Homo sapiens: one gene and its partners. The protein of the gene in region 3 purifies or fractionates together with the protein of the main gene of each other region. This does not show direct contact. Each region holds a gene or a part of one and is shown on either strand. Other genes may lie near its edges.

What was found.
Region 1: the proteins of ZC3H8 (region 3) and LARP7 purify together in Homo sapiens (affinity purification with mass spectrometry; 6 studies listed by BioGRID and IntAct, with this or other methods). This does not show direct contact.
Region 2: the proteins of ZC3H8 (region 3) and C8orf33 purify together in Homo sapiens (affinity purification with mass spectrometry; 3 studies listed by BioGRID and IntAct, with this or other methods). This does not show direct contact.
Region 4: the proteins of ZC3H8 (region 3) and ZCRB1 purify together in Homo sapiens (affinity purification with mass spectrometry; 4 studies listed by BioGRID and IntAct, with this or other methods). This does not show direct contact.

Annotation. Positions count from the first base shown.
Region 1 is NC_000004.12:112,632,121-112,640,239, forward strand, and holds the start of LARP7 (la-related protein 7), read left to right. Parts: upstream 1-5,022; 5' UTR 5,023-5,119; intron 5,120-5,381; exon of another isoform or gene 5,382-5,483; intron 5,484-5,523; exon of another isoform or gene 5,524-5,667; intron 5,668-6,497; exon of another isoform or gene 6,498-6,553; intron 6,554-8,119. Other genes in the region: 5'-3' DNA helicase ZGRF1, read right to left, coding at 1,036-1,056. UniProt on the Homo sapiens protein: RNA-binding protein that specifically binds distinct small nuclear RNA (snRNAs) and regulates their processing and function.
Region 2 is NC_000008.11:145,047,652-145,055,703, forward strand, and holds the start of C8orf33 (UPF0488 protein C8orf33), read left to right. Parts: upstream 1-4,815; 5' UTR 4,816-4,840; coding exon 4,841-4,846; intron 4,847-4,934; coding exon 4,935-5,246; intron 5,247-5,410; coding exon 5,411-5,495; intron 5,496-5,645; coding exon 5,646-5,792; intron 5,793-6,366; coding exon 6,367-6,506; 3' UTR 6,507-8,052.
Region 3 is NC_000002.12:112,231,043-112,238,757, forward strand, and holds part of ZC3H8 (zinc finger CCCH domain-containing protein 8), read right to left. Parts: intron 7,487-7,715; coding exon 7,273-7,486; intron 5,654-7,272; coding exon 5,520-5,653; intron 3,195-5,519; coding exon 3,078-3,194; intron 2,330-3,077; coding exon 2,218-2,329; intron 906-2,217; coding exon 796-905; intron 1-795.
Region 4 is NC_000012.12:42,315,380-42,323,094, reverse strand, and holds part of ZCRB1 (zinc finger CCHC-type and RNA-binding motif-containing protein 1), read left to right. Parts: intron 1-648; coding exon 649-677; intron 678-5,196; coding exon 5,197-5,308; intron 5,309-5,647; coding exon 5,648-5,755; intron 5,756-7,715.

The DNA of each region.
Region 1 (8,119 bases), on a different chromosome or scaffold from region 3:
AAAAGGCACATACACCCATATCAATTTTTTAAATTTTAAAAACAAAAGCACAGATAGCATGACAATAACATTAAATATTAATTAAATGAAATAAATAAGGGAAGGAAGGGAGAGAGAGAAGGAGAGGGAGGGAATAGGGGAGGAAATGGCAGGAGAAGGAAGAAAGGAGAGGAGAAATCCAAGGAAGAAACAAAAAAGATAAATGAGCATTGAAAGTAATTTGAGCTCCCTAGTCATCAATTGGAAGGGAAAAAAATTACTGGATTACACAGTACTAATAATCTGTGCAGTTCTCAAAGTTTGGTCCAGAGACTCCTGGAGGTCTCCAAGACCTTTACAGGTATCTGTGAGGTCAAAACTATTTTCATGATGCTGTCTTTTCATCCTCACTCCTTCAGGGGTGCAGAATGAAGTTTCCCAGGATTATGTATATGCAATATTGTAAGATTCAATTGCAATCTGAATGTAGAAGAAACAAATATGAGAATCCAGTTGTCTTCCATTAAGCCAAATCATAAATACTTTTTACATTTCTGCTTTAACTTCTAATATGAAAAACATCAATAGACGTAAGACCCTATATACACAAGTTATTTGGGGTCAATAATTTTCTAAGTGTTAAAGAGTCCCGAGACCAAATAGTGTGAGAACTGCTGATCTATACAGAAGACGGATGCCAGTTCTTCAAGAGAAAGAAATTGTTTCCCGGTCTCACACTTTCAAAGATTATGTTACAAAGGACTTTGTCTAATACTTGATCTTAGCCAAAAGGCTGAAAAGTGATGATTTTGTGTAACAAATATGAATAGTAGGTAACAGATAGGGTTACCAGATAAAATACTGTGCAATATTTGGGATCCTAATGCTAAAAAAGGTATGCATTGTTTATTTGAAATTCAAATTTAACTGAGTAGCCTGTTTTTTGTTTTGTTTTTGCTAAATCTGGCAACACAGCAAGATGTTTGTGAAACGCCTTTAAAAGAAAGAGACAGAGGAAGGGAATTTCACCAAACTGTGAAAAATGGTAAAACTTACAATAAATTCTTGGCTTTCCATTATTTCTTCTGAAGTTATAAACCAGCTGGGTCCAGAAAATAGGAAATATTCAACTATTTATACCACCTAAAATTAAAAATGACATAAAATTTCAACCCTGATTTTTAAAAAATATCAAATATAATTTTTCTCAATAAACTCCCAACCACAGACATGAATCAAGGAGTTCCAAGATTACCTAACTACCAAGGGAAACAGAGGTGTAATTATCTATCACTGAGGACACAGTAAAAGTGATACCATGCTGTGAAACAAGCATTTTTTCATAAGTAAAGAAAAAACTAAGTAAAATACATAAATTAACTTGTAGTCTGCATTTTTCCAGATGCATAATATGTATCAGAAAACACGAATTTGTCCTCCACATGTTTGGTTCCCTATAGCGCAAATTCAATTTTTAAAGTTTTCTGAATTGCTACGGTTACCACAAGATGGCCCCCTTGTGTTTTAAATTTTTCCTTTCACTTCTTAGCATCAATATACCACAGTATCTAGGACCAATTACATAGTACCTCTACAAGGAAAAATCTTTCCAACACTGTTGCAACAGTTACTGTAGTTGTTATGCTATTGGATAAAACTGTTTTTGTGGGCAAATTTGGAAATCTAAAATCACTGATGGTGATCCCTGAAGAAGTAAACAGAAATGCCAAAGAAACATACTTTCTTTTTTTTCCCCTAAGGTGGTTCTCAAGATGTGACCCCTGGACCAACAGTATCATCTGGGAACTAGTAAGAAATGACCTATTAAGTCAGAAAGTCTGGGGTTGGGGGCCCAGCAGTCTGTGTTTTAAGAAGCCCTCCAAGTGATGCTGATGGACACTCAAGTTTGAGAATACAGATCTAAAAGACCTAGAAGGATTCAATAAAGCTGTAATTGTGATTTCAGTTCCTCTTTTAGACATATAAAATATGCCACTTACATATTATTTATAAGTTACATATATTTATTCAGTACTTACTATTGTGCCAGATATTATGCTAAAGTATTTAAATGGAAACTCTATCCTCCATCTGAAGGAATTTCAGTATGGCGGGGTGATAAACAGTAATTTTAATAAAATAAGGCAGGAATAAGCACAGCAGGGGCACCCAGCTTGGTGTGGATCATCAAACAAGGCTTCTTCAAGGAAGTAAAGTCTAAGCTGTAAGCTGAAATAACCCTTAGTCAAGGGAAGGCCAGTGAAGGTCTTCCCAAACAAGAATTGCAGGCCTGTGATCCCAGCACTTTGGGAGGCCGAGACAGGTGGATCACCTGAGGTCAGGAGTTCGAGACCAGCCTGGCCAACATGGTGAAACCCCTGTCTCTACTAAAAATACAAAAATTAGCCAGGTGTGGTGGTGCGTGCCTATAATCCCAGCTACTTGGGAGGCTGAGGCAGGAGAATCACTTGAACCCAGGAGGCAGAGGCTGCAGTGAGCCGAGATCACGCCACTGCACTCCAGCCTGGGCGACAAGAGCAAAACTGTCTCAAAAAAAAAAAATAAAAGGGCGAGGCGGGGGCGGTGAAGTGCAAGAAAGTGACTGGCATCTTCCCTTGACTAATCAAGGTGATCTGGAGAAAGAATAGGTAAGGGGTATGCAAATGAGATATGCATACTTGCTTCGTGACACAGGTCACAGGACAGAAACCAAACCTACAGAAGGACTGCCTTTCAGAAATATAACTCCTGGCCGGGTGTGGTGACTCACGCCTGTAATCCCAGCACTCTGGGAGGCCATGGCGGGTGGATCATGAGGTCAGGCGCTCGAGACCAGCCTGACCAACATGGTGAAACCCCGTCTCTACTAAAAATACAAAAATTAGCTGGGCATGGTGGCACAGGCCTGTAGTCCCAGCTACTCAGGAGGCTGAGGCAGGAGAATTGCTTGAACCCGGGAGGCGGAGGTTGCAGTGAGCAGAGATCACGCCACTGCACTCCAGCCTGGGCGACAGAGCGAGACTCCATCTCAAAAAAAAAAAAAAAAAAGAAATACAACTTCCACATCCTATCTCCCTCCCCTCCGGCGTACATAAATTGCTGATGCCTAAGAATGCCAAGAAGATAAAAGAGAGATCGAGAAAAACACTCCTGGGCTAGATATGCTGTATACATAGATGAGAATACATGGTACAGACACAGTGCTGGGCATGTGGCAATTATTAATATCAGATCTGTTTAATAGCTACCATTTATTCAGTGCTACCATATGCTAGAAACTGTTAAATGCTTTATTTGGAGGTTTTGTTTCTGTTGGCTTTTTAACTTTTCTTTTTCTTTTACAGAGACAGGGTCTCACTCTGTCACCTAGGCTGGAGTGCAGTGTTGCAATCATAGCTCGCTGTGGCCTCAAACTCCTGGGCTCAAGCAATCCTTCCAGCCTCCCAAAGTGCTATATTATAAACATTATATACATTATATTGTTAATTATATACATTATAATTATTATGTAATTATATAATATATAACTATATTACTGTATTATGTAATATACAATTATATGATTATCGTGTGTAATTATATATATTTATTGATTACATACTATGTATCAGGCAGGAATTGGACGAGATACTTTACATACAGTATTTATCAGTCTCATAATCCTGAAGAATAAGCATTATTACAATTTACAGATTAGGAACCCAGTATTTACTAGTTTAGGATAACTTATATGCTATTTCACAATTGCAAGATAAATTCTCCATTATTTTCCTAAATTGAGATATTACTTCTGGAATGTACAGTTTAAAAAGAACTAAGAAGACTGAAACTCTTAAAGGATGGTTAAATTCGATTATAGGAGAAAACCTAAAAAAAAAAAGCTAACTGGATCTTTTAAAATTTAGAAGAGCTCTAATACTTATTCATTGAAAGTCAACACCCTTTCTTATCTTAGTATTAATCAGAAAAAATTATTTTAGACAACAGCATCATATATATTTAAGTGAGATGCAAAGAGTTTTTTCCAAGTGTTCATCTGTCCACGTCTACCAGACAATTCACCTGTTGACCGACTTCTAATAGGTGAAAGATTAATCTCCAAATAAGTTTTTAAAGACCCCAGATGCTCTGTGATAATTATATACATACATACATACACACAGATATACGTACATACACACATATACATACATATACATTGTGCTACTATATGTACGGACGCAATATATATACATAAAACTCGGTGTTCTCAGTAAAGTATGAGCCATTATTCATTTAAATACTAGATATTTTTCCTTTTTTTTTAAACAAGGAGTATTTTTTGAACCTAAACCTGAACCTCTAAATAGTTCGGATAACAAAGTTTTGGAATCATGAACTCAACATTGTTAACAAACCATCCAGTCCAAATAAACAAAGGAAACCCACATCTCATTTGCCAAGATTCTAAGAACCATAATCCTGTCACCAAATGACAATGGAGACTTGATCCTTTCTCAGTCCTAAATACAAACAGCAAAGCCCTCTTTGGTCCTCATACCTACTCGAAATTGCAAAGCAAGGCCTGGGAAAAACGGTGAAGAGGCACCACTTACTACAAGCAGTCCGAGTAGCTGTGACTGCGACCACCCCAATCCTGGTTCCAAACAGCATCCTTCCCGGTTCTCTTCTTAAGGAGCAGAGTCTTTCGTCCCTTCGCCCCAAATCGCTCAAGTCATTCCTAGGAAATCCCGAGAAACACTTCACCTCACCTGTCAAATTGCACAAAATCCACTTTCGAATTTCTCCCGCGAAACAACGTGACGTCATTAACGCGGGACCTCACCAGATGAGGACCCAAAACTTGGCCCGCCCACCTCCGCCTAAGCCAAAAACCGCCGCTTTCAAATCGCCAATCAAATTCTTCCTTGGCTTCGAGTCTCTCAGCCGGCCGCGCTCTCCGATGCCCAGCCCTCCTGGAACCACCTCGCCTGTGACGTAGGTGGAGCGCGCACTGCCTCCGGGCCCGTCTTTCTCAATTGGGACCGGAAAACGTTGTCGCTCATCCTATGACGCGAAAGTAACCGAGACTATCAGGATCCGGAGACGGAAATGTCCGAAGGCCGCAGTACTTGACCCTGTATTTTGGGAGTCGAACGGAGTAAGTTACAAGCGGCCTATAGGGTCGCACAGCTTGGGCGAAGTCTAATTAACTCTCCGTCCTTTTTCTTGCGGTCCACTCTATCATCTATCGTCCTTCTTACCCCGCCCCCCCGTCCTGCACACCCATCAGTTCCTTGGCCTAGTTATCTATGCGCACGCGCAAAAGTCTTCGGCAGCACTTGTAGTTCCCGTTTTCAGACAGTAAGGGCGCATAGGGGCCCGGCGTGGGGAGGTTTGGGGCGCGCCCGGCCTATGACGGCGTCCTTGCGGAAGTACGGGTGCCGAGAGAAGCAGTAGTCAATAAAGAGAGTGCCGTATTTCGCAGATTGGAGCTGAGCTGTGGCTGCCAGAAGATAGCGAACGTGAGGATTTATATTCTAAAATTATCATCTTCTTTTGCAGGACTCTGCCATCGTCCTCAAAGAGTAAAAAATCCAGTTACGGAAGGGAACTAACACTTGCTAGATATGGTGTGCAGAGTGCGTTTGCAAAGAAACTTAAGAGAAAACAAATGATAGGACACAGGGTGGTGGAAGATCTCAAAGAGTAAGATGCCATTTAACCTGGGCCTTGAAAATTTAATAAGGAAATTTAGACGAGAAGATTCAGACAAAGCAGAACACACAGGCCACTACGTGTTGAGGGACTTGAGTTGTAAGCAGTGACCAGAACAATGATTCTTAACCTGTTGTGGCACACTTCTTTTGAAAACTTAATTATATGGATTAGCTTCTCAGGAAAACGTGCATGTACCTATTAAAACATTTTGCGAGGCTGGGCACGGTGGCTCACGCCTGTAATCCCAGCACTTTGGGAGGCCGACGCGGGAGGATCACTTGAGGTCAGGAGTTCGAGACCAGCCTGGCCAATATGGCAAAATCTCGTCTCTACTAAAAACACAAAAATTAGCGGGGAGTGGTGGTGCACACCTGTAGTCCCAGCTACTCAAGAGGCTTGGTTGGGAGAATCGCTTGAACTCGGGAAGCAGAGATTACAGTGAGCCGGGATCGCGCCACTGCACTGCAGCCTGGGCCACTGAGAGAGGCTGCGTCTCCAAACAAACATTTTTCATATAATTTCCTCAGGAGAAATTACGAAATACTTTTAAATAGCAAACACACACAAATGACTTGGTGTCTTGTCTGACTCACTCTTCCAAGTTATCTATGTCTTTCGTGGTCTTTGAACTATTTTTCAACCCTGTAACTCGCTACAGCAACATGGAAATTAGGTTTGTCCAGTAAAGATGCAATTAATTATTGTCCTGAGCAGTATTTATTAATATTCATTTCAACGTTCCTGATTGCCTGTGTACCTGCTTTTTAAATTCTCCTTTGAACTGGTTTTTAGCACTTAACTGGTTCCCTTATTTACAGTCAAGCACCACATACCGACAGACCGCATGTATGACAGTGGTCCCATAAGATTATAGGTGAGTAATAGGCAATAGTACCTAGGTTTGTGTGAATACATCATAGAATAACTACATACTCAATGATGTACTTACTCACCTGACTGTGCATTTCTCAGAATGTGTCCTTGTCGTTAAGCAACCCATGACTGTGCTTAAATCTTTACCGTGTATTCATTTTATATTTGTACAAGAGTCTTGATTTTACCTTATCTTTAAAATGTATCATTTACAATTTAATGGAGCCCACTAGAATTCTTGTCCAGCCAAAGTTGCATGGACTTCAGATTAAGAATTCCTGAGTCAGAACATAGAGTCCGTGGTGATAAATTGCGGGAAATTCTACCAAAAGGTAGACAATGTGGGATCAAACATACCTGGGACAACTTACTTAGCTAGCTTTGGCCAAGTCACTTAAACCTTTTTGAGTTTTTGTGTTAAGATGGAAGAAACTGCTACCTAGTGGGATTGTGAGGATTTACAAAAGTGTATATAAAGTTACTGGTATTGTTACCCAATAACTTTTATTCTTCATTTAAAGCCAGTTAAATGTTACTTTTTTTTTTTTTTTTTTTGAGACGGAGTCTTGCCCTGCCGCCCAGGTTGGAGTGCAGTGGCACGATCTCGGCTCGCTGCAAGCTCCGCCTCCCGGATTCACACCTTTCTCCTGCCTCAGCCTCCCAAGTAGCTGAGACTACAGGCGCCTGCCACCATGCCCGGCTAATTTTTTTCTTTTCTTTTTTCTTTTTTTGTATTTTTAGTAGAGACGTGGTCTCACCTTGTTAGCCAGGATGGTCTCCATCTCCTGACCTCGTGATCCGCCCGCCTTGGCCTCCCAAAGTGCTGGGATTACAAGCGTGAGCCACCGCGCCTGGCCAAGTGTTACTTTTTTTTTTTAAAACAGTGTTTTCATAAACTGCATATTATGTTACGGGAAGGTGCTAAGGAATTTCTAATGTTGCAAGTTTTGACAGAAGCATCACAAAACCAGGTCTGTGTTTTAGATGGGTTATACATAGGCTCCTGTTGAGAATGGGTGACTTACAGAACAGTTTATAAACTATTGGCATATTCTAGTGACAGTTGTAGCAGTAGTTGTAGAAAACACTGGATGGAGATGAGAGCCATTTCAAAAGTCAAACTGATAGGATTTAACAAGAGATTGGATAGAATAATTGGATAGAATTATTGATAATTGGATAATTATCAATAATTTATAATTATAGATTATCAATTATAGAATTATAATTATCAATTATAGAATAATTGATAATTATAGCCTACGTTTGTGTTTGTTCGTTTTTGAGATGGAGACTGAATCTGTCTCCCAGACTGGAGTGCAGTGGTACGATCTCGAATCACTGCAACCTCTGCCTCCTGGGTTCAAGCGATTCTCCTGCCTCAGCCTCCCGAGTAGCTGGCATTACAGGCATGGGCCACCACACCCAGATAATTTTGTTATTTTTAGTAGAGACTGGGTTTCACTTTGTTGGCCAGGCTGGTCTTGAACTTCTGACCTCAAGTGATACACCTGGCTCGGCCTCCCAAAGTGCTGGGATTATAGGCGTGAACCACTGCACCTGGCCT
Region 2 (8,052 bases), on a different chromosome or scaffold from region 3:
CATGGTGAAACTCTGTCTCTACTAAAAATACAAAAATCGGCCAGGGTTGGTGGTGGGTGCCTGTAATCCCAGCTACTCAGGAGGCTGAGGCAGCAGAATCACTTGACCTCAGAGGGAGGAGGCTGCAGTGAGCTGAGATTGTGCCACTGCACTCCATCCTGTGCTACAGAGTAATACTGTGTCAAAAAATAAATAAATAAAAGTTCTTACTGGAGAGAAACCTTATGAATATTATGAATGTGGGAAAGCTTTTATCCAGAAATGTATTAAGTACCAAAGATTTAATATCTCATGAATACAGAAAGTATGAGAAAACCTTTGCACAGAGCTCACACCTAATTCAGCATCAAAAAATTCAGTGGAAAGAAGTCATAAGTATGTAATTACTGTGGAAGAGCTTTCCATTCAAAATCACACCTTATTCAGCAGCAGATAATTCACAGTAGAGAAAAGGCCCGTGAATGCAATCAATGTGGAAAGCCTTCAATTGGAGCTCAGCACTTGCTAAAAATCAGATAATTAACACTGGAGTGAAACCTAATGGATGTAATGAATGTGGGAAAACTTTCATCCAGAGTTTAAATCTTATTCTGTCAGAGTTCATGCTGAGAGAAACCATATGAATGTAAATGAATGTGGAAGAGCCTTTAGTTACAGGTCACACCTTATTTCACATCATAGGATCCACACAGGAAATAAGCCATATGAATGCAAGGAATTTGGCAAAAATTCCCATCCAAATTTGTACCTTATTTGACATCAGGATATTCATCACAGAGAGAAATTACAGGAGTGTAATGAATGTGGGAAGGTGTTTGGTCAGAATCCAACCCTTGTTATACATCAGCAGATTCACATTGGAATGAAATCTGATAACTACAGTAAATGTAGGAAAGTTTTTTTGTAGATTCATAGCCCCTGCAGAACCTAAGGCAGTTCCAGGTAAAGAGAAACCCTATGGGTACAGTGAATATGGGAAGACCATACAGAATTCATACCACTTTCTGGATCAAAAAGAATCAAAGAAGAGACAAAGCCTATGAATCTCATGCATGTGCAAAAACCTTATATTATGTGTCAAAACTTATTAAGTATCAGGGTATGTAGTCTTTAATAGTTTAGAGCCTGTTCAGTAGCAGAAAATCCACTCTATCAATAAACTTTATGAACATAAATACTGTGACAAAGTCTTCAGGCTAATTTTAAGTTTAAAAAATCAGGCTTTATCATAGAAAAAAATGAGAAAAAAATAAAAGTAAAATGTGATCCAAACTTGTAATTATGTTAATGGAGACACAGTATATATAAACATATTTAGATATATGTTTTCTTTCTTTCTTTTTTCTTTTTTTTTTTTGAGACTAGGTCTTTCTCTGTCACCCAGGCTGGAGGGTGGTCGTAGAATTTTGGCTCACTGCAACATCCGCCCCTGCACCATCCCCCTTCCCACCGCTGCCCAAAGCAATCCTCCTGCCTCAGCCTCCCAAGTAGCTGGGACCACAACCGGCTAATTTTTTAAATTTTTTGTAGAGACCATGTTGCCCAGGCTGGTCTCAAACTCCTGGGCTCAGGCAATCTGCCTGCCTTGGCCTCTCAAAGTGCTGGGATTATATGCGGAGCCACTGTGCCCAGCCTGGATATCTGTTTTCTTAAACTGTGTCCTTCAAGGTCAGGGTACTTCTCTTGTTCTTTCACCGTACCCATCCCATTGCCTTATTCATTCAGCCCCTTAATAAATATTTTGGTGTGATTTGCTAACTATGGAAAAATCTTTTCTGAAGACTCATGTTTCCTGCCACAAGAGGAACCATAGAAAATATAGCACTGGAAAGGCAACAGTTCAAATCCAAGGTTATTCATGATTACATCAACCTACAATTACTGTGCAGCCCCTATGTGCCTGGTAGTGTGCCTGACAATGGCAAATCAGAGATGCAGAAACACTTGGCCTCTTTTCCTCATATCTCTCAGTCTAGTTGGGATACAAAGGTATGTAGAGACAGATAACCACATCAGTACAGTAATAGAGGTAAGAATACAGGGTTGAGTGGGGTCCCAGAGGTGGGAGAGGTCTACAGAGATGGCTCATTTTCAAAATTCTGAGAGACAATAACTGTTAACCTCAAATTGTGTTTCTATCCAAACTATCCTCCAGGAATTAGAATAAAAATAGGCATTTTCAGATGAGCAAAACCCAAAACACCATAACAGATTTCATTAAAGGAGCTTTAAAAGGATGTACATTTAAAGAAATGATATCAGAACTGAGATATAAGGAATGATGCCAGGCATGGGAGGCTGAGGTGGGAAGATTGCTTGAGCCCAGGAGTTCAAGACCAGCCTGGGCATCCTGGTGAGACCCCATCTCTACAAAAAATTACAAAATTAGCTGGTATGATGGTGCATGCCTGTGGTCCCAGCTACTTGGGAGGCTGAGGCAGGAGGGAGGATCAGTTGAGCCCAGGACAACCTAGGTGACAGAGTGAGACATGGACTCTAAGAAAAACAAAAGTTGTATATTTGAAAACACTGACTGTAAATAGAATTAAGTCTAATATGGCAGATTTAAAAACAAAGATAGAAATGAAGTCAAGACAAAAATAGCATATGAGTCAGGAAGGTAATGGATAAAATCAGAGCATTGAAAGTGAGGCAGGATAGGTAGTCAAGGAAGTAACCATGTCCTCGGGATGCAGCAACTGTTGTGACTGTGCAATCAGCACAATAAGCCTCTGCCTTCACATTGTGGTTAAGCTCTTTCAAGCAAAACTATCTTCAGTAGAGAATTTCCCCTGCAAAGAGCATGTACATTTTGATTTTACCTGTCCTCAGACTGACCTTTCGCTCATTATAATAGTAAAAAACAGAGCCCTGGTTGGAGGTTTAAGATGCTAATAAGACATGTGACATGTACGAACAATCATATACCAGCATGTAGAACAAGCATTGTATGACAAGAAGCATTGTATGAACAAGCATGTAAGAACATACAGCTACCGCACATGTGCACTCAGAGGACCATCCAGAACATACTCACTAGTAGCACCTCTTCCCAATTCCTTATGAATAATCATGTAAGACCCCCATAAAGGGAGTCTCCCTCATGCGTCTTTGCTGCCCCAACCTTATGAGCAGCTGGCCCTCAATCCTCTCTCTCTCTCTCAGGGTGTACTGTCTATTGTTCACTTAACTTTCCAAATATTCTTTCTCCTTTGTAATAAATTACTGTATGCCGCATCTCCTTTACTGCGTGTCCCGTTTAAATTCTGCGTGTTTTTTTTTTTTTTTTTTTTTTAGATGGAGTCTCGCTCTGTCACCCAGGCTGTAGTGCAGCGGTGCGATCTTGGCTCACTGCAAGCTCCACCTCCCGGGTTCATGCCATTCTCCTGCCTCAGCCTCCCGAGTAGCTGGGACTACAAGTGCCCGCCACTATGCCCGGCTAATTTTTTGGTATTTTTTAGTAGAGACGGGGTTTCACTATGTTAGCCAGGATGGTCTCAAACTCCTAACCTCGTGATCCGCCCGCATCGGCCTCCCAAAGTGTTGGGATTACAGGCGTGAGTCACCGCGCCCGGCCAATCCGCCGAATTTTGGGAGTAATGTATCACACTGCAGTAAATAACTATCAGTGATGACCAAACTGTAACCCTTCGAGACCTTGCAGACCAGGCAGCTAACACTTCCCACCCCACCGTCTCAGGAAACACCGCTTTCCACTCCTGTGTCCCCGAAAGGAATCATCAGACATCTCGGACTCTTACCTTCTCAAGCAACACAACCCACCCTCCTGGCATAGCCCGTTGCCCCCCTGAAACCCTACTCAGCCTCACCTCAACCCCTACGCAATTCCTCTCGGTTGTCATGCCTCCATCGGCGGGGGTCGAGTGTTGTGTGTGACCCCAGGTCTCTAGCAAGGTATAGTGGGAGGGAAGCATCCAGGGGAAGAGAGGTGGTGGGATGGGGCTCTCCCTCTCCCCCATACCGCCACCCTCCCTCACGTCCATATCCTGTCCAAGGCTCTTCCCGCGTCTGCTTCTGAAACCCCTCCACGTCCCTCCACCCCATGTGCCCCACTCGTTACACAAGAGCAGAGAGATCTGCAGAACATACGTCTACGATTATGCCACTCTTCAGATTTACATCTTGCAGCGACTTCCCACTGCGTTAGAACGGAAGTAAGCCCATGACGGGGGCCCTCCCAACTCTCAGACCTCACCCGAGCCTCCACGTCCCGAGACGCCGGCCTCTCAAACGACCGCGCCCTGACCCTCGCTCTTCCCCATTTCCCAGGGTCTTTGCCGACCACCCTCTTGCGCCGTAGCTGCTCACGTGCTGTTTACTTGCTTTTCCCTCCCCACCAAAAGGTGAGCCTTGAGAAGACACACCCTCGTGGAGAGCTTTGAACTTTTATCCGGAAAGGTGCCGGGCACGTAGTCAGCGCCCGCGATCACTCGCTCACAAGGGTTCTTCCGAGACCCCTCTTCAGCCTCTTCCCCGAACCCCCAGGCCCCGCCCCAGCCCCATCTCAGCTTCGTCCCAGGCGCGTCCCAGCTTCGCCCCGTCCCAGCTTCATCCCACCCCAGCCGCGCCCCGCCCCGCCCGCTCCCCGCCCCGCCCGCGCCCCGCCCGCGCCCCGCCCCGCCCGCGCCCCGCCCGCGCCCCGCCCGCGCCCCGCCCGCGCCCCGCCCGCGCCCCGCCCGCGCCCCGCCCGCGCCCCGCCCGCGCCCCGCCCGCGCCCCGCCCGCGCCCCGCGGAACCTAGAGTCGCAGGCGCGTTCTTGAAGGACGGAATTCGGCGTCGGACTCTGCGCCCCGCGTAGTTCCGGTGGCGACTGCGGCGCATGGCGGTGAGCGGTGTGGAGAAGACGCGCGGGTGGCTGGGCCTTGCATTGTTGGCGGCTCTCGGTGACCCTCGTGCTACCCCCCTTTCTCCAGGCCCTGGGACATCTTGCTGGGGAGGCAGCGGCGGCCCCAGGCCCGGGTACTCCCTGCGCGTCCCGCGGAGCCCGGCTTCCCGGCCCAGTTTCCAGCGCCCGGAATCCTTCCACTGTCTGTCTCTGCCCAGAGCAACCTACGTGCAGTAACGCTGACTCCAGAGCGCACCCGTTGGGCGATGAAGGCGGCACAGCGTCGAAAAAACAAAAGAATAAGAAGAAAACGCGGAACAGGGCCTCTGTGGCAAATGGAGGCGAGAAGGCCTCAGAGAAACTCGCCCCAGAAGAAGTTCCCCTAAGCGCTGAGGCCCAGGCAAGGGCGGGCTTCGGTCGGGAAGGGTGGAATCCACGGGTGCGAATCCACGGGCACGTGTGATCTGGGGTCCGCGGAGTTAAGGCGGGGAGGGGCATGGGATGGGGCCGGCGGCTATGGTTTTCCAGTGCCCTCTCACAGCCACTTCCCCAAATCCATCACAGGCACAACAGTTGGCCCAGGAATTGGCTTGGTGTGTGGAGCAACTGGAGCTGGGCCTCAAGAGGCAGAAACCCACCCCGAAACAGAGTAAGGGACCCTTCTGTAGAGCTGGGGGATGTGAACAGTGGCACTGCCTGGCCTGCAGGTGCTGGCAGAGTATGGAGTTGTTGGCTTTGCGGCGGGGTGGTAGGAGGTCAGTAATAGAGGTGTTCACTAGTCCTTTATTTTTATTCGCAGAAGAGCAGGCTATTGGAGCAATCCGAACCCTGCGCAGCAAAAGAACGCCCTTGCCCCGGAAGAGGCAGCTGATGCACTCCTTGTTTGGAGACTATAGGGCTCAGATGGAAGCCGAATGGCGTGAGGCCCTGCGGGCTCTCAGAGCTGGTGAGGAGCTAGCCACTGGTTGATTCAGGAAGGCCTAACTTAAGGAGGAAGTGTCTAGGGGGTGAAAGGAAGAAGGCCCAGAGCAACAAGCCTGGTGGGGGAAGGAGATGGGCTCAGGGAAGCCTGAGGGAGCAGGGAAACAGAAAGCGTGGACCTCTCTTTCCTCTTCCTAGGACTGAACCTGGGAAGCAGCGGGGAGGCCCTGGGAGGAGTGGGAAAGAGCATGGTCCTATGTTGGTCCTGCTCCTGGGTTGGGGAAAGCTGCCTCATGTCTTTGTGTCTTGGCTTTCTCTACTAGCAATGAAGCCATATCCCATAACAGTTTGAGTGCAATTCCTGGGGCCAGATCAGCTAGGTTCAAATCCTGGATCTACCACATAGTAGTACTAACACCTTTTGCAAACTACTGAACCTCTCTAAGTGGGGGATGATAGTAATATCAACCTTACAAATTTGAGGAATTAATCAGTTAATTTATGCAAGGTGGTTAGAATTGTATGGGCAAACATAACTGTACAGGTAATGTTAATTGTTATTATTCAGTTCTGACATACGCTGCTTCTCTCCCCGACAGCTGCTTATTCAGCCCAGGTGCAACCTGTAGATGGAGCCACCAGAAAGAAGAGCCAAAGGGTCTGCAGGCCTCGCTCTATATGGAGAGCCAAAGCCACTCTGGACATGCCTGATGAAGAGTTTAGGTTCAATTTCTTTTAGCGTCTCCCCGAACCTGAAACAATCCCCCTCCCTTGGGGTGGTGTAGGGGTTTGTTTTGAGTGCAGAGCCTTTCCAGGACTTCTGTTGTCAGAGAACCCTGGAGTTGGTCTGTCCCTGGCTGGTCCAAGGATTTGTAGCTGTTGTGAAGGTGTGAGACCATCAGATAGGCAAAAGACCCCGTTCGTTTTCTGATGAAATGTTCTCTCTTTCAGAAGAGAGAGAGAGGTGCATTTAGAAAATATGCAATAAATTGAAGTGAGTGTTCAAAGTATTGTAGAAGGAATATTGTACTCAGTCTTTAGGATTAGATTAAGTGGCTGTTGGTAACAAAGATTAGTGGAGAAGCTGTATAATCGTACACTGGTTTTCACTTTTGAAAGGAATCCCTGTCAAATGGTTTAGTGCTTAATGCTGTTATGTCATATTGCCCTAATCTCTATTTTTGATAAAATTGGATAAGGAGTGAAAGAGTATGCTGACCACCTATGTTAGAGGAAGTACAGAAGATGCAGGGGTGTGGTATCCCTGGGTCCAGTCCCTCACCTGGTACCTTTGTGCATGTTGCCTTCATTCCTGAGCAGGTATCATCCTCAGGGAACCAGCATGGCACCTACCAGGCCAGGCTCTGTTCTTAGGAGCAAGGAGCTTCTTGCGCTAACAGTTCTGGCCTGAGACCTGGATTGAGCCTTGGCAGACTTCTTGTCTAAATGTTGGCCATTCAGTCTCAGGCCCTCTGTTCCATGGAATTGGGAATCTCCAGGTGACCTAATCCTCATTGGTGGCTTGATGTTTGCTGGTATCTTCCAAACTCAGTTCCCAGACTAGATTGATACCTGGAGCCCAGCTGCCTACTCAGCATTTCCACTTGGGTGCTTCATAGGCATTTCAAACCTGATGTGTTTAAAACACTTGATTAGGCTCCGGTTTTCCTTTGGCTTCTGCTTTTCAGTGAATGGCATGACTGCCTATGTGGGTGGCAAGCCACCCAGGTGCCGAGGAAAGAGACTGAGGGCACGAGCTGTTCCAGTATAATAAAATATATAAAATAAGAAGAGTTATACTAGATCTAGATCATAGACATGATTATATGTGAGTATCATTAATCATTAGTTTATAGCAATTACTCTTTATTCCAATATTATAATAATCCTCACTCTACAATCATAACCTAGGAAAAACCAGGCCATACAGAGATAGGAGCCGAGGGGACATAGTGCGAAGTGGCCAGAAGACAAGAGTGTGAGCCTTCTCTTATGCCCGGACAGGGCCACCAGAGGGCTTGGTCTAGCAGTAACACCAGTGTCTGGGAAGATGCCTGTTGCAAAGTGGACCATGGTCTAGCAGTAGCATCAGTGTCAAGGAAAAACACCCACTACTTAGCAGACTGGGAAAAGGAGCCTCCCTTTCCCCGGGGGAGTTTAGAGAAGACTACTCCTCCACCTCTTGTGGAGGGCCTGACATCAGTCAGGCCCGCCCGCAGTTATCCAGAGGCCTGTCTCCCTGTGATGCTGTGCTTCAGTGGTCACGCTCCTAGTCCGCTTTCATG
Region 3 (7,715 bases):
CAAATTCATCCTAATAATCATCTAATATTATTTACTACTACTACAGGAACTGAAAAACTTATTTCATATATATCACTTTTCCATATCTATTTCACACAAATAAACAACTAAATATTTGGTACAACTTCTAATTCCACATTAACCATTCATATTTTACAACCTAAAAATATCTATAAACAAGCACCTTTGACTTTGTAATATTTACATATGCTCAAGGGAACATTTTGCCAGAAGATCGTATGGTTGGCTTCAAAAGAATCTTTTAAATTTTCATGTATACTTAGATTAAATTTTTAAGAGACTAGCTCCAACTAACATGAGAAATGAAAGAATACAAATGACTGTAACTTTTCAATAACCTTTTCTCACAGACTGAAAGAATATCTGAAGAAAACATTTTGAAATTACTACTTAACTATTATTTGATGTAATTCTAAAATGTTTATAAACCCGTAACTTGTAACTTTCCTTCCAAGAATCTTTATAACAGGAGTACTATTTTTCTTATTTGATTTGCTTTGTTTAGCTTAGCTTAGCTATTAAAATGGCTAATTATACTGAAGATTTTACATCTTTCCAACTTAAATCAGCAATGAATATACATCTTCCTTTCAGCTACAAGGAAACATATACAAATGAAAAATATTTAAACTGAATTCTTAAGTTATTAGTCCTAATATATCCCATATGCTAACCTAAGAGGCACTCTCCTTAATTATCTTCAAATTCTCATCCTTAGTTCAAACATATTCCTTAAAAAAGAAAAAACAAAAGATTATTAAAAATTATACTTACTTTAGCCAACAATTCTTGTGTTTCAGGAGTCAGTGGAGCATGAGAAAACTTGCAGTATTCTCCCTGATAACATTTTGTTCCTGTATGGTAAAACTTACAAGGATATTCATGTAACCCAAGTGTTAAGGAAGAGAACAATTTTAATCCAATTGAAATAATGTTATTAACTTAATGACTTTATTTTTCCTAAATAAAGACCTCTGTGGCCGGGCGAGGTGGCTCATGCCTGTAGGAGGCGGAGGTGGGCAGATCACTTGAGGCCAGGAGTTCAAGACCAACCTAGCCAACATGGCGAAACCTCGCCTTTACTAAAAATCCAAAAAAATTAGCTGGGCATGGTGGCGCAGGCATGCCTGTAATCCCAGCTACTCAGGAGGCTGAGGCACCAAAATCATTTGAACCTGGGAGGCGGAGGTTGCAGCGAACCAAGATTGTCCACTGCACTCCAGCCTGGGCAACAGAGCAAGATAATGTCTCAAAAAAAAAAAAAAAAAAAAGACCTTTCCTACTAGCAGAAACTGGATTTCTCTATTTAAAGTATGAGATAATAAACTAACTGGAATACATTTAAAAATCTAATTTTAGAAGGACTACATACGTAAATCAAGTTTCTTGGCTATGACAGGACATTTTTTTCCTTCATATCCATTCTTATAATAGAGTACAGGCATGTTTCATATATGAAAGGGGTATATATTTTAAATACCTTGATAAATGTGATCATTTTTAAAGCATTCCTTTGGGGGTGGAGGAATCAAAGTCAACAACGACATATCTTACAAATCTGGATCCTTTGTACATTAGACTTGTTTACAACAGAATAAATTTATATAACTTCAATATTTTCTAGGAAAACAATCCTCAAATTACAATTTGATACTCCTTATATTGAATGCCTGAAGAAAAAAATTTTTTTGTGATGACTAAAGGTGCTATTAACCTAAAATGTTTATGTTCCATGTTTTTACAACTTGTCTGTGCCATTTGCACTGAAGAGCTAAGGCTATTCTGCAAATTAAGGGATGATTAATTTCTACACAGTACAGAATACACAGAAAACAGGTACTCCCAAATTATGTAATCCTTGCCTTTTTATGAAGTAGCTTATTTGAATATAGATTCAATTAATCAGTGTCACAGTAGAAATTGTGATAAGTCTTTCTGGGATTTGAAGAGGTCTCATGGACCCTCTATACCACCCAGGTTGAGCAGAAAGAATCATCATTTGAGAGATTTTCTAAAGAATCCCTCTTTTCTTGCTTATGAAAAAATCCACGTACAATTTAATCACTTTGATACTAAGTTGGGCTTGGATAATATCATTTTGGTATACCTAAAACACTGGTTTCATTAAAAATTTTGCACATTTAAAATGTTCATGTAAATATTTATAAAGTCACCATATCTTGTGATAAAGGATATTATGCAAATACAGACAGTTTTCACCTCTGGTACAATATCCTTGTACATAAAACTTACACATTTCCTTTTTCTTTTCTATCTCTGCATCATGATCAAATTTACACTGGTCTCCCTAGGCCAAAAGAAGGAGCAAGGAAAAGCCATTATTTCTCATAGTCAAGTCATTATGATTTAATTCCTACTAAACTTTAAATAAGCAAATGATTCCAGAAAGAACCAAAGTCTTAGAGGTAGCACATTCTAACTGTTAATAAATTATAACCACATCACATATATCTGCTTAAAATCTTCTTAAGTCCCAAACATTTTTAAACATAAAGCATTTTTTAAAATTATCAGTCGCTCACGCCTGTAATCCCAGCACTTTGGAGGCCGAGGTGCGCGGATCATGAGGTCAGGAGATCGAGACCATCCTGGCTAACACGGTGAAACCTCGTCCCTACTAACAATACAAAAAAAATTAGCTGGGTGTGGTGGCTAGCGTCTGTAGTCCCAGCTACTTGGGAGGCTGAGGCAGGAGAATGGCATGAACCCAGGAGGCGGAGCTTGCAGTGAGCCGAGAATGCGCCACTGCACTCCAGCCCAGGCGACACAGTGAGACACCATCTCAAAAAAAATAAATAAATACATAAATAAAAATTATCTGACTCAGGTGATCCACCCACGTCGGCCTCCCAAACTGCTGGGATTACAGGCCTGGCTACTTTTTTAAACATAAAAGAATACTTCACTAAAATTTTCTAACTGATTTTTTTCCAGAATGAAACAGCTTTAAAAACCTAAAGGTATGAATTAAAAGAGTATCAAACAGAAAGAGCAGTTTTACATTTTAGTAGATTTTTGCTTACACATTTTTATACCTTAATACATTTCCTTTCAAGAAAATATTTACAAATTTGTTTTCCCTTGCGTTCCACTGTATGTTGGTTGATGAATGCCTGACTCAAATGCTGCTGCTTCTCTTTAGGTTTACCATCCTTTAAAAACAAAAACAAAAAAACTAAATGTAAGAAACAGAAAATTAAATATTTTATTCTGTTGCACAAAATTATTTAAACCAACTTCAGAGCCTTAAAGGTGACTCTTCTAAATTGGCCTTCATATGTAAAATTTGGATTTCTGTACACCAGGTTAAAAATGAATGTTTTGTCAGTTTCAACAGCATTCCATCATTGAATATTAATGTTTGTATTGATTTGAATATTTTATGATACATTGCCTTTATTTTGTAAAAATGAATGAAAAAAATTTTTTAAATGGGCCAGACACAGTGGCTCACGCCTGTAATCCCAGCACTTTGGGAGGCTGAGGCGGGTGGACCACTTGAGGTCAGGAGTTCAAGACCAGCCTGGCCAACACAGTGAAACCTCATCTCTACTAAAATACAAAAATTAGCTGGGAGTGGTGGTGTGCGCCTGTAAGCCCAGCTACTCTAGAGGCTGAGGCAGGAGAATCGCTTGAACCCAGGAGGCAGAGGTTGCAGTGAGCCAAGATTGCACCACTGTACTCCAGCCTGGGCAATAGAACGAGACTCCATCTCAGGGAGAAAAAAAAAAAAATTAAATGAAAGTGATAGTATTTATGATTAAAAACCGAAGTCTAAGAACGAAGATCTTTAGAGTGGTAGAGACAAAGTTGGAAATCAGAGTGAACCAAAAGCAGTGGAATCTATAGTTTCAATGAGATGCTCACTGGGTGTGAGTTGAGCACACTTATCAGCTCAAATTAACACACGCAACTAGAAATACACCGTCAAAGATGGTGATAAAGGTATAAAAGGAGATTTTTACATTAAAAAAAGGAAGAAAATCTTATAATACATTTAAGCTCTTCAGAAACATAAGGTACTTTTTACATGTTAACTTATGCTACAGATTACAGCTTCTGTATACCAAATTTTTGCATACAGTTTTAGGAATACAGTATGTACAAACAAGGGAGCTGACTGTACAGTCATTTATAATAATGTCAAATTTCCACTTAGCACCATCAAATTTATGTCTTATAAATATCTGCCAGTTTAAATCTTGTTTTATTTGGTAACATTATTAAATTCTATATATATGTTTAGAATTTGTTCCTTGTGTAGAAGGGCTGTCAGCTTTGGCTGAATAATCATTTGAGCCATGTAAATCAAATCAAAGAGAATATTGACAGGGGGTTGAGAAACAAAATCCTAGTCCTGGCTTGGCCCTGTGTGACTATGGGTAATTACCTGAACCACAGGGCTTCAGATTCCTCATTCATAAAATATGGAGGCAGGGGACAGACTGTATATAAATGTTTTTCAATCTAGAATATTTGGCATTTCTAATATTTTACCACCCCTTACCCTTGTCCCATATGACCAAGCCTAATAAAAAAAGTTGCCATCCAGTTAAAAGCCCTCAGAAAAGTGGAATCCAGAAGAGGTACTTATTATTCTACCCTGCTTACATCTACAGACCAAGGAAAGGGAACTTCTAAAAACCAAAATCAAAATACAGGAAGGTGGGGAGTGGGGAGATTCAGTAAGGCCAATGCTCAGAAATATTGATTTTTAATTTCCAGAGGGAGCCAGGATGAGGGACTTTAGTAGTAAAAAATTTGTAAGACTCAGTGGCCTTTGAAATGCCTCATGACTATTTGATCTTCTCTGGGCTTCCCATTTTTCCCGAGTCATTGATAGTATAACACTAAAAAAAAAAAAAAAAAAAATCAAGGAGTGACCAGGCACAGTGGCTCATGCCTGTAATCCCAGCACTTAGGGAGGTGGTGGGTGGTGGGAGCCGAGGCAGGTGGATCACCTGAGGTCAGGAGTTCAAGACCATCCTGGCCAACATGGCGAAACCCTGTCTCTACTAAAAATACAAAAATTAGCCGGGCATGGTGGCGGGCGCCTGTAGTCCCAGCTACTCAGGAGGCTGAGGCAGAAGAATCACTTGAACCCGAGAGGCGGAGCTTGCAGTGAGCCGAGATCGCACCAGCCTGGGTTACAAGGCGAGACTCTGTCTCAAAAAAATATATGTATAACAATAATAAAAAAAATCAAGGAGCTTGTGTGCATATATTCAGGAACAACAGTGAGAACGCTAAGGCTTAAAAGTGGTGCTGGCAGCTAATCAGTGAGAAAAAGAAAGCTGCAATAAGAAGGAAGAACACAGAGAACCCAGTGACAGTAAAAGGACATCTTCATCCGAAAACCGATTCTGTGGGATGCTTCCACCTCTCCATATCACATAGCACTTCTTGTCACTGAAGTATAAGATCAAGTCCAAAAGCATGCAGGGGTCAGGTATTCCTAGAAGCATATATTCCAATACCTCTTCCTGTGAGCCGCTGTTCCTCAGCAAAGCATTTGATCCTTTGTTTCCAGGGCCAGGCCATTTTCGCTTCATTTTCTTCTGTTTGCCATTCTTGTGACCAGCTTTAAGATTTTTATTTTTTTGTTTAGCAGCTAAAAACAAAAAATTAATTTAAAAAATGACATAAAGTTACAATAGCAGTTTACTTTTAAGAAGTACGGGGCCAGGTGCAGTGGCTCATGTCTGTAATCCCAGCTCTTTGGGAGGCTGAGGCAGGAGGACTGCTCAAAGCTAGGAGTTCAAGGCCAGCCTAAGTGTTCAAGGCCAGCCTAGGCAGCCTAGAGATCTTGTCTCTACAAAAACATAGCTGGGTGTGGTGGTGCACGCCTGTAGTCCAGCTACTCTGGGACTATAGGCTAAGGCAGGAGGATTGCTTGAGCCAAGGTGTTCAAGGTTACAGTGAGCTATGACTGCACTGCTGCACTCCAGCCTGGGCAACAGAGTGAGAACCTGTCGCAAAACAAATGGAAAAAAGAAGTATGATTTACAATAATTGAGGAAAGTTCTCTAAGGCTCAATAAGTGAAAACTGGCATGATAGTGATCAGTTTTCCTAGAAGCTCTGGGACTAAGGGACCAAAAAGAGAATTATGATAATACATCCTGGATTCCCCATTCATTGTTTTTAAAAATATATAAGGTATTGTCAAGAAAAAAGCAAGATAATAAAATCAGTCTTATAAGTTCTAAGGCAGATCCTTTTGAAGTGTTCAGAGTATGATGGATCTAATTAGGAACTGCAACAGTAAAACTTTAAGTGTTTACAATGACCTCATAAATTACTGTCAGATTTTTCACTGAAAACATTTTAAATAGATCAAGTTTTTATTTATTTATCTATCCGTGCACGCATTTATCCATCTATCCTGCAATGGCATAATCATAGTCTACTGGAGCCTCGAACTCCTGGGCTCAAGCAATACAGATCCATTTTAAGTAAAGAAAACAACAAAAAAATGACAGCATTAAAATTTTAATTTTTTTTTTTTTTTGAGACAGAGTCTCGCTCTGTTGTCCAGGTTGGAGTGCACTGTGTGATCTCGGCTCACTGCAACCTCTGCCTCCTAGGCTCAAGTGATTCTCGTGCCTCAGCCTCCAGGGTAGCTGGGATTACAGGCATGTGCCACCATACCCTGATACTTTTTTTTATTTTTAGGTTTCACCATGTTGGCCAGGCTGGTCTCGAACTCCTGACCTCAAGTGATCCACCAGCCTCGGCCTTCCAAAGTGCTGGGATTACAGGCGTGAGCCACCATGCCTGGCCAAAAATTTCATTTATAATTGCCATTTGCCCTCATATTTATGGCTAAATCTCATTTTAGTAATCTAGAAGAATATATTTCTGAGTTACAGTCTGACATACAACCATTCCAGTCAATCCTCTTTAAATGACAGCAATACAAGCAGGCATATCCTATCCTTCACACATGCAGAGGCCAGGGCTTTAGCATTCTCCCTTTAGAAATAGTCAGGGCCTTTGATAACCCACCTCCATCCTCCAGCTCCCTCTACAAACTAAGCATTTAATGCACCAAGTGGCCAGGTCTCAGATGGGGTCTCTGGCCATGCAAGCTCATGTCTGGTATAAATATTCATGAAAACCATAGTCTTATCATAAGATAAAGTGCAAAGAAAAATCCTCTGTCCGTATATGGACAACTGTGACTGCTTCTCTAGATAAACTTTAAATGATAAAATAGTTTGACTCTTACCCTGTGGGGTATCTTTTACTCCTTCTTTCTTTGTAGATTCTTCAGGTTGAGCAGCATTTGCCATTTCTCTGGCTTGTATGTACTGTTGAAGCTCTTTGGCAAAATTATCTTCTGATTCCTGACTGCAGATATCATTATCACTATATACATCATAGTCCTTACTTCTTGATTTTCTATGCAGCGAACTTTTTGGTGATATTGCAGAGTGTCTAAACTAAGTAAAAATTAAAACTTCAATTTTAAAAACCTAGCATGATTCAAAACAATCTGGCTATACAGAAGAAACAAGATTGGCTATAAACTGGTCATTGTTGAAGGTGGGTAATAGGTACATGGGATTCATATACTATTCTCTCCACTCATATATTTGAAAATTTCCAGAATTAAAAAAAAGAAAAAATTTCCAGAATTAAAAACAAACTAACAAACCACTATGACATATC
Region 4 (7,715 bases), on a different chromosome or scaffold from region 3:
ATGGGTAATGAGCTGGAACTGTAGAAATAAATGAGATTGCATAGGATAAAGTAAAAGTAACAGAAGAGAGAGCCAAGTATAAAGTTCCACCAACATGTTAATGGTGGGCAGAGGAAGAAGACTGATAGAAATGGATTTTTCATTATAAAAGCTTATTTTATGAGGTTTTGTTTTGTTTTTTAAATAAAGCAGTCTAAGGATTTGCCTTCTCAAACAGGGATTGCTTAATAGGAATAACAAGGTAGTGGTGAGGGTAGAATTGGAAAAGTGCTGCTCCATAAGATTGACATTTGAAGCACAGGTGTATCTGGCACTATGATGGAGTTGATAGTTGCCATGGGTATACCTCAGGAACACAGCAGCTGTCCAGTATGTATGCCTTAGATCTACCACATGTGTAGAGTGAGTTTTTTTCTCTGTATTTACTCCATTGTCAAATTTAGAAACAGACAGATACATGTGACTCCAACAACAGTAAGTATATTATTCTAGTAACCAAAAAAAACTTTTTCCTAGGGCCTGTCTTATAGACTGAAGGCTGAAATTATTCATAAACTGTAACAAAGAATTTGGTCAATGTCTGCAACCTAAAAATTTGATGTTTTATGATTTTAAAATAAATTGTAAATATTTGGTCTTTTGTTTCAGATATTTTCCAAGTATGGCAAAGTTGTAAAGTAAGTATTCACATTAAATTTTGTAACTTCATTTAAAAGTTTATCTGAATTTGCTTCTACATTTTTTTAATGACAGATTTTTAAAAATAAAACATGCTTGATATAATAAAGAAAATACTATTAACATTTTTATGACAATTTAGTTGGTTTTCCATGTACATAAACATGTAGACAATTTTTCTTAAAGACTATTACATACATACAATTTTCTTTTCTTTTTTAATTTGACATACCATAAATGTCTTTCCATGTGCTATAAAGATACATCCTCATAGCTAATGGTAAACAAATATTTTGGTTACTAGGAAGTGTGTTATCAAGTATACTATAAGTAACCTACTTTCAAATAAATAGGTGGTTTTTTGTTTTGTTTTTTTTCATATAAATAGTGTAAAAACAAATATTTCAGTGCATCTGACTTGCAGGATGCTATGAGTCTTTTAAATAGAAAACATATTATCTTCCTTCAGAGATAGCTTGGAGATCGTTGGAAAGACTAGAAACATGCAAAAATGGTAATGGATGATAACAGGGCTGAGGGTTAGGAACAATAAAAAGAACTTGAACTTCTCGTATTTCACTGTTTTAAATCAAGCAACTATATTATGGGGCAAAAAAGTAACAGGATACTGTCATCCTAACTTTCTTGTAACCAATATAGATTCTGATATAAATTTAAAATCCCAAGAATTTTGAGCATATTTATCTTGGCTAATTTCTTCTAGTGTTCCATAAATGGATATTAAACAGTTGAAGCTCTTTTGCATCTTGAAATTACTAACTTCTTTTACAGTTACTTTGCTATTAAAAAAGCATTATCAAAAATGCTTCTGTGTAAATTTTTGGGTGTTCAGATTTTAAAAAGTCATTGTCATCAGTCCAAACACTGGTAATGATGATGGTATGTGATACTTAAATGAGCACATATATATGCCAGGCATTGTTCTAATCTCTTTATGTGTATTATTTAATTCTCACAACTACCCTTTAAGGTAGGTACTATTATCATCTCAGTATTATACATGATGAAACTGAAGCACACAGTAAACCTAAGGTCATCTTGCTAGCTAGTGGTGGAGAAAATATTTGAATCCAACAGTGAGATTTCAGAGCCCACTCCCTTTTACCTTTTTTCTTTTTCCACTTTGTTAGAATCTCTGAATGGATCTCCATATAAATATATAGTCCTAAACCATGAAACTGCAATGGAGTTAAAGACACGAGAGTTATAAGCACCTAGAAACAGGGAAGACTATCTAGTCTAGAGAGCCAGGGAAGGCTTACCTAGGTCAGTATTTTTTGAGTGGAAACCTAAAGGATGAGTAAGAGTTAAGTAGGCAAAAATAAGGGAGGAATATTTCAGGTAGAGGGAATAGCTTGTGCAAAGGCCCTGTGGCAAGAGAAAATAAAGTGAGATCAAGAAATAGAAAGAAGGCCAATGTGACTGGAGATGAGTGAGTAAGGGGGAGAAAGCACAAGGTGGCTCCAGAGATGGAAGCAGGTTCCTCATCTTACTTCTTGGTCAGGTTACCAAGGTATTTGGTTTTCATTCTAAGAATATCAGGAATCATTTAAGAATTTTAAGTGAGGGGTGACATGATTTAAATTTTTTAAAGTTTATTCTGGCTTAATGTAGAAATTAGATTGGAGGGGAACAAAAGCAAATGCAGCTGGGTGCAGTGGCACACACCTGTAATCCCAGCACTTTGGGAAGCCGATGTGGGAGGATCACTTGAAAGGTCATGAGTTCAAGACCAGCCTGGCCAACATGGAGAAACCCCATCTCTACAAAAAATACAAAAAGTAGCCGGCCCTGGTGGTACACACCTGTAATCCCAGCTGCTTGGGAGGCGAGGCATGAGAATTACTTGAACCCAGGAGGCGGATGGAGGTGGAGGTTGCAGTGAACCAAGATCACACCACTGCACTGCAGCCTGGACAGAGCAAGACCCCATCGCAAAAAAAAGAAAAAAGCAAATGCAGTGAGACCAGTCTGAATCTAAAACTGTAGCCCAGGGGAGAAATGTGTACTAAAATAGTACAGGTGGAGATATAGAGACTGGTCAGATTTGAGAGGTGGTCAGATTTCAGAGATCATTATGAAATAAAGTGGGTAATAGTGATGTGTATAGGAAGCAAAGTGGGTACTATTTAGTGATATGCTTACTTTGCGTATAAGGACTTTGTGAACAAGAAGGAGGTGTTATGGATGACATTCAGGTTTCCCAAAATAGTGTATGCTTCATATTATGTGCTTAAATAAGTACATCATATACCTTATATTAGGAAATGGTGCTATTATCTACCTCTTTTCCCTTGCCAGAAACATGGGAGTCACAGTAGATTTGTCCTTTTAAATCTCTGATGTAATTTTTTTTTTCTGTTACCACAGAAGGTATCTCTATCAAAGTATTGTATGATAGTTGGTTTGTTGGTCTGTCTCTACCACTAAACTGTAAGATTTCTCCTGAGGGTAAAAACTACTGTTAGTGCTTAGCACATGGGCTTGAGGCTAACAGAGTGACTGAGTGACCGAATGAATGAACACACACAATGTACTCTTTTAGAAACTACTTTTCCCATTTTTTTGGTCTGTCTTTCCCATTGAATATAAAGGTATATCTATCAATCAACATATTGAGCTGGGCACATATGGATTACAGAGACAGCCTTAAAGGAGTTTACATTAAAATAGATGAGATGAGGCATTGTTTATGAATAACACAATTCAGCAGAGACTAGCATAACGGAGGAGAAATTATATCCAGTTGAAGCTATTAGAAACTGACACATTGACCTGAACCCCGAAAGAATGAGGAAAATTTTAATGAGCAGTGATTCAGAGGTGGAAGAAGATAGAAGCTGTATGAACAAAGGCACAAATTTGGGGAAATACAGGCCATGCTACTGGAGCATTGAGTGGTTTCTTTTGGGTAGACTTCATAGTGTGTGCGTGGGAAGGAGCAGTGAAAGATGAAGGAGATGGGAGCCAAATCATCAAGGATACTGACAGTGGGACAAAGAATAGGCAACTTACAGAACCAAAGATTTTTGAACAAAGGAATGGTGTGATTTTATTTATTCCTTAAGTAGAAGACTACTTAAGGATATGAGAAAATTATAAGAGAAAAAATTACCATAAAGGAACCAATAAGAATAGACTGTTAAAACAGTAATGCCCCTATGGACAAGAAAAAAGCAGTGGAATTGGAAAAGAGGCAACAGATGAGAGATCATTAATTGAGGATGATGTAGAAAGCCAATACTTCTTTTGAAATACTACTTTAAAAAAAAAGACTGATAACTTTCACAAACATTACGAAAAATTCCAAAACATAAAGCAACTACCTTATTCAATATTTCTGTCAAATTGGTGATTTTTCCAACTCCAGCATTCCCTCTACATTCACCAGTCATCCCTTGGCATTCTGTTGTAAGCAAGAGCCTTCCCTCCCATCTCCTCCACTTATTTATTGGTCTTTTATCAGTAAGAATTATAAATTCCTACCTTCTCTGTGGCTTATAATTTATTACTGTAATGAATTATTTTGATGCTCAAATTGTCCTTGATTTGGCCAGTGGGAGCTCCTTCCAGCTGGCTGCTGTATTCTTGGCCCCATCATTCATTCATTCATTCCTCCCTCCGTCTCTCTCTCTCTCACTCGCTCACGCACTCTTGCACTCTCTTACCTTCTGGCATAAGATGTTCCAAGCTCCTCTTGTACCTGCCCTGCTGTAGCCTTGGAATCCGCTATTTCTCCAAAGAGCCCTGTTGAACATTGTTTTTAAACTATGTTAAATGACATACGGTGGGCAAGGGCCTCCATGACTAGGGATGTGGATGGGGCAGGAGAAAGAGCAGGCTCTGTGCTCTCATAACTCTCCTTGTCACTCAGGTACACCCTGGTGGGTGGTATGGCTAAAAACCACAGAACTGGAGATTCTTTTTCCCTAAAGATCGGGGTCTCATTATGTTGCCCAGGCTGTTCTCAAACTCCCATGCTCAAGCATCCTCCTGCCTCTGCCTCCCAAGTAGCTGGAACTACAGGTGCGCACCACCACAACCAGCTCTGGAGGGTTTTTTTCCTTATTTTTCTGAAGATTCTTTAAAAGAATATTAAGAATATACTTTGATTCTAACACTTAGAAAAATAAATAAATCATTTTACTTTTTGTGTAAAGTATACCTTTATTTTGTTTTGTTTTGCAAGGTGAGGGAGTTAGCATGGAAGAGGGATTGTGGTTACACTTTAAGATTTCATTGTCTCTGTAATTTCTTTACTTCACCCTTCAATCTCTGATTAACTCCTAATCATAGCTGTGCTCACTTCTGTTAAATCAGTATCACCCTTTCCCATTTCCATTCTTGATATCCCTTGACTTTGAAGAGATAGCTGATTTTTCAAATGTATTAATTTATCTTATAAATTTTTAGCCCTTTTTAAAATGAATTTTTCAAGTATTAGTATCTGTTTTATTTATTGCTGCCTCATTTTTAACTCTTTGTTTATGCTTTAAGGGTTACCATCATGAAAGATAAAGATACCAGGAAGAGTAAAGGGGTTGCATTTATTTTATTTTTGGATAAAGACTCTGCACAAAACTGTACCAGGGCAATAAACAACAAACAGGTAAGCTATTCATCTCCATCAAGGTTTTTAGCCCCAAAGCCTTTATGCTCATCCAGGCCAAAAATGTGGGGATATAGTGGATCATCAGGTCTAGCAGATATCAGTAGATTCTTAAGATATCTAACTTATAGAAAGAAAAGAGGTCAAACTACTGGGTTCTCAAAACATTGGTGGAATCTCAGGAATAAGAATACTACAGAATAGAATTTATCACACCTAAGTGACAATTGCTAAAAAATCCAAAATAAACTGGAATTGAAGATTTGAGAAAATTGATTAAATAATTAATTTTAGGTTTCAGTGAAATACATTCTACATTTACATTTTTCTCTTGTTTAGTTATTTGGTAGAGTGATAAAAGCAAGCATTGCTATTGACAATGGAAGAGCAGCTGAGTTCATCCGAAGGCGAAACTACTTTGATAAATCTAAGTGTTATGAATGTGGGGTAAGTAAACCTAAAACTTAATGGAACTTTCCATAGTTTAAGATACTTTTCACATCAGTCTTTTATTTTTGCTCACCAAAACTTCTGACTGGCTAAACCAGATTATGAAAATGCTTTATTTTTTAATATTTATTTTTTTGAGATAGGGTTTTCCTCTGTCACCCAGTGCAGTGATGCAGTCACAACTCACTGCAGCCTCTACCTCCCGGGCCCAACTGATCCTCCCACCACAGTGTCTGAGTAGCTGGGACCACAGGCATGCACCATCACACCCTGGTTAATTTTTAAATTTTTTTGTAGAGGCAGGGTCTTCCTATGTTGCCCAGGCCAATCTCAAACTCCTGGGCTCAAGCAGTCCTCCCACCTCAGCCTCCCAAAGTGCTAGAGTTACAGGTGTTAGCCATGGTGCCTGGCCTAGTTGTTAGGGTCTCTAAACTCATCAAAGTAAATTCAATTGAAATGCAATGTGTAAAGATAACCTGAGTTGGGTAATACAAAGTGGTATTTTCTCTAGTTCCTAAATCTTTGAAAATCACTAGTTTTAAAAGTGTTAGACTGATTACTTATGTCACTGTCTTGCAAGATTTTCGTAACTCATAAATTTTTGTTAATAGGATATTGCCTGTTTCTTTAACAGTTTTTAAGTCACAGTTCAATAGCAACATTATCATGTGACTTTATCCTCTATGGGATATTGTGTTTTGAAGTTTTTTATTTTTTCCTATTAGTATTGCTAGTGTTTTGTAACTGAACTATCCCCACATTTTCTTCTTTGGTTCTCTTCATGATCTGTCATTATCCATTTAAAGTTTTGGTGATGAAGAGAGAGAGACAGCCATAGAATAATTTTGTATAAGGTCTGTATTGGTACCAAGAGAATTTTAGTCTGGTTCTCACAGGTGTAAGTTTGTAAAATGACCATAAAAATACTTAAGAAACAGGCCGGGCACAGTGGCTCACGCCTGTAATCCTAGCATTTTGGGATGCTGAGGTGGACGGATCACTTGAGGTCTGGAGTTCAAAAGCAGACTGACCAACATAGTGAAACTGAGTTTCTACTAAAAATACAAAAAAAAAATTAGCCAGGCATGGTGGCAGGTGCCTGTAATCCCAGCTACTTGGAAGGCTGAGGCAGGAGACTCGCTTGAACCCAGGAGGTGGAGGTTGCAGTGAGCCGAGATTACTCCACTGCACTCCAGCCTGGGCAACAGAGGGAGACTCTGTCTCAAAAATAAAAATAAACATAAAATAAAATACTTAAAAAACAGAGTCCAGAGGTAGTAATGGGGAACTGGGGAGAGAATCACTGAAAGATACCGTCCTGGCTACAAAATCACATGGAAGATGCAAGGAAATGGCTTGAGGTCCTCTACCCCACTGTCACTCCCCATACCCCCGACAAAAAAGATAACTAAATAAACAGACTGATGGATGGATGAATAGAAAGAGTGAGCAAGCAGTTGCTTGGATACATACTGATTCTGTCAATTCCTATGATTCTAAAACCTCTTAAGTAAACACTTTAGAAACTTTTCCAAAGTTTTGAGTTTTGTAAAAGAAAGAAAGGGAGGGAGGGAAGGTAGTTATATTCAGATTAGTATATATCTTCATATTCACAGTAAATATTAAATTATCTGAGAAATCCTAGATGAATCTGTTAATCGGTTCCTTTTGGTTTATGGATCCATAGAGTTGTTATATTTTTTACATTTTTATATTTAATTTCCCTCCCTCCAAAAAAAACTTTTTTATATTGACCTAGCCTGGTTTTTCTCAAGTTATTTCATTAAATCCTTTTTTAGTATGGGATATGTTAATTTTTTTTTGCTATAATATTATTCCAAAACAGTTTCAGATATGTGTCTCTATTTTCTCAGCAGCTCATTAACAGTAAGTAACCTCTTTAAGTTGGGCTATGTCCTAGGTATACAAAGTGCACAGTCTGTCTGCTCTGTCAAAT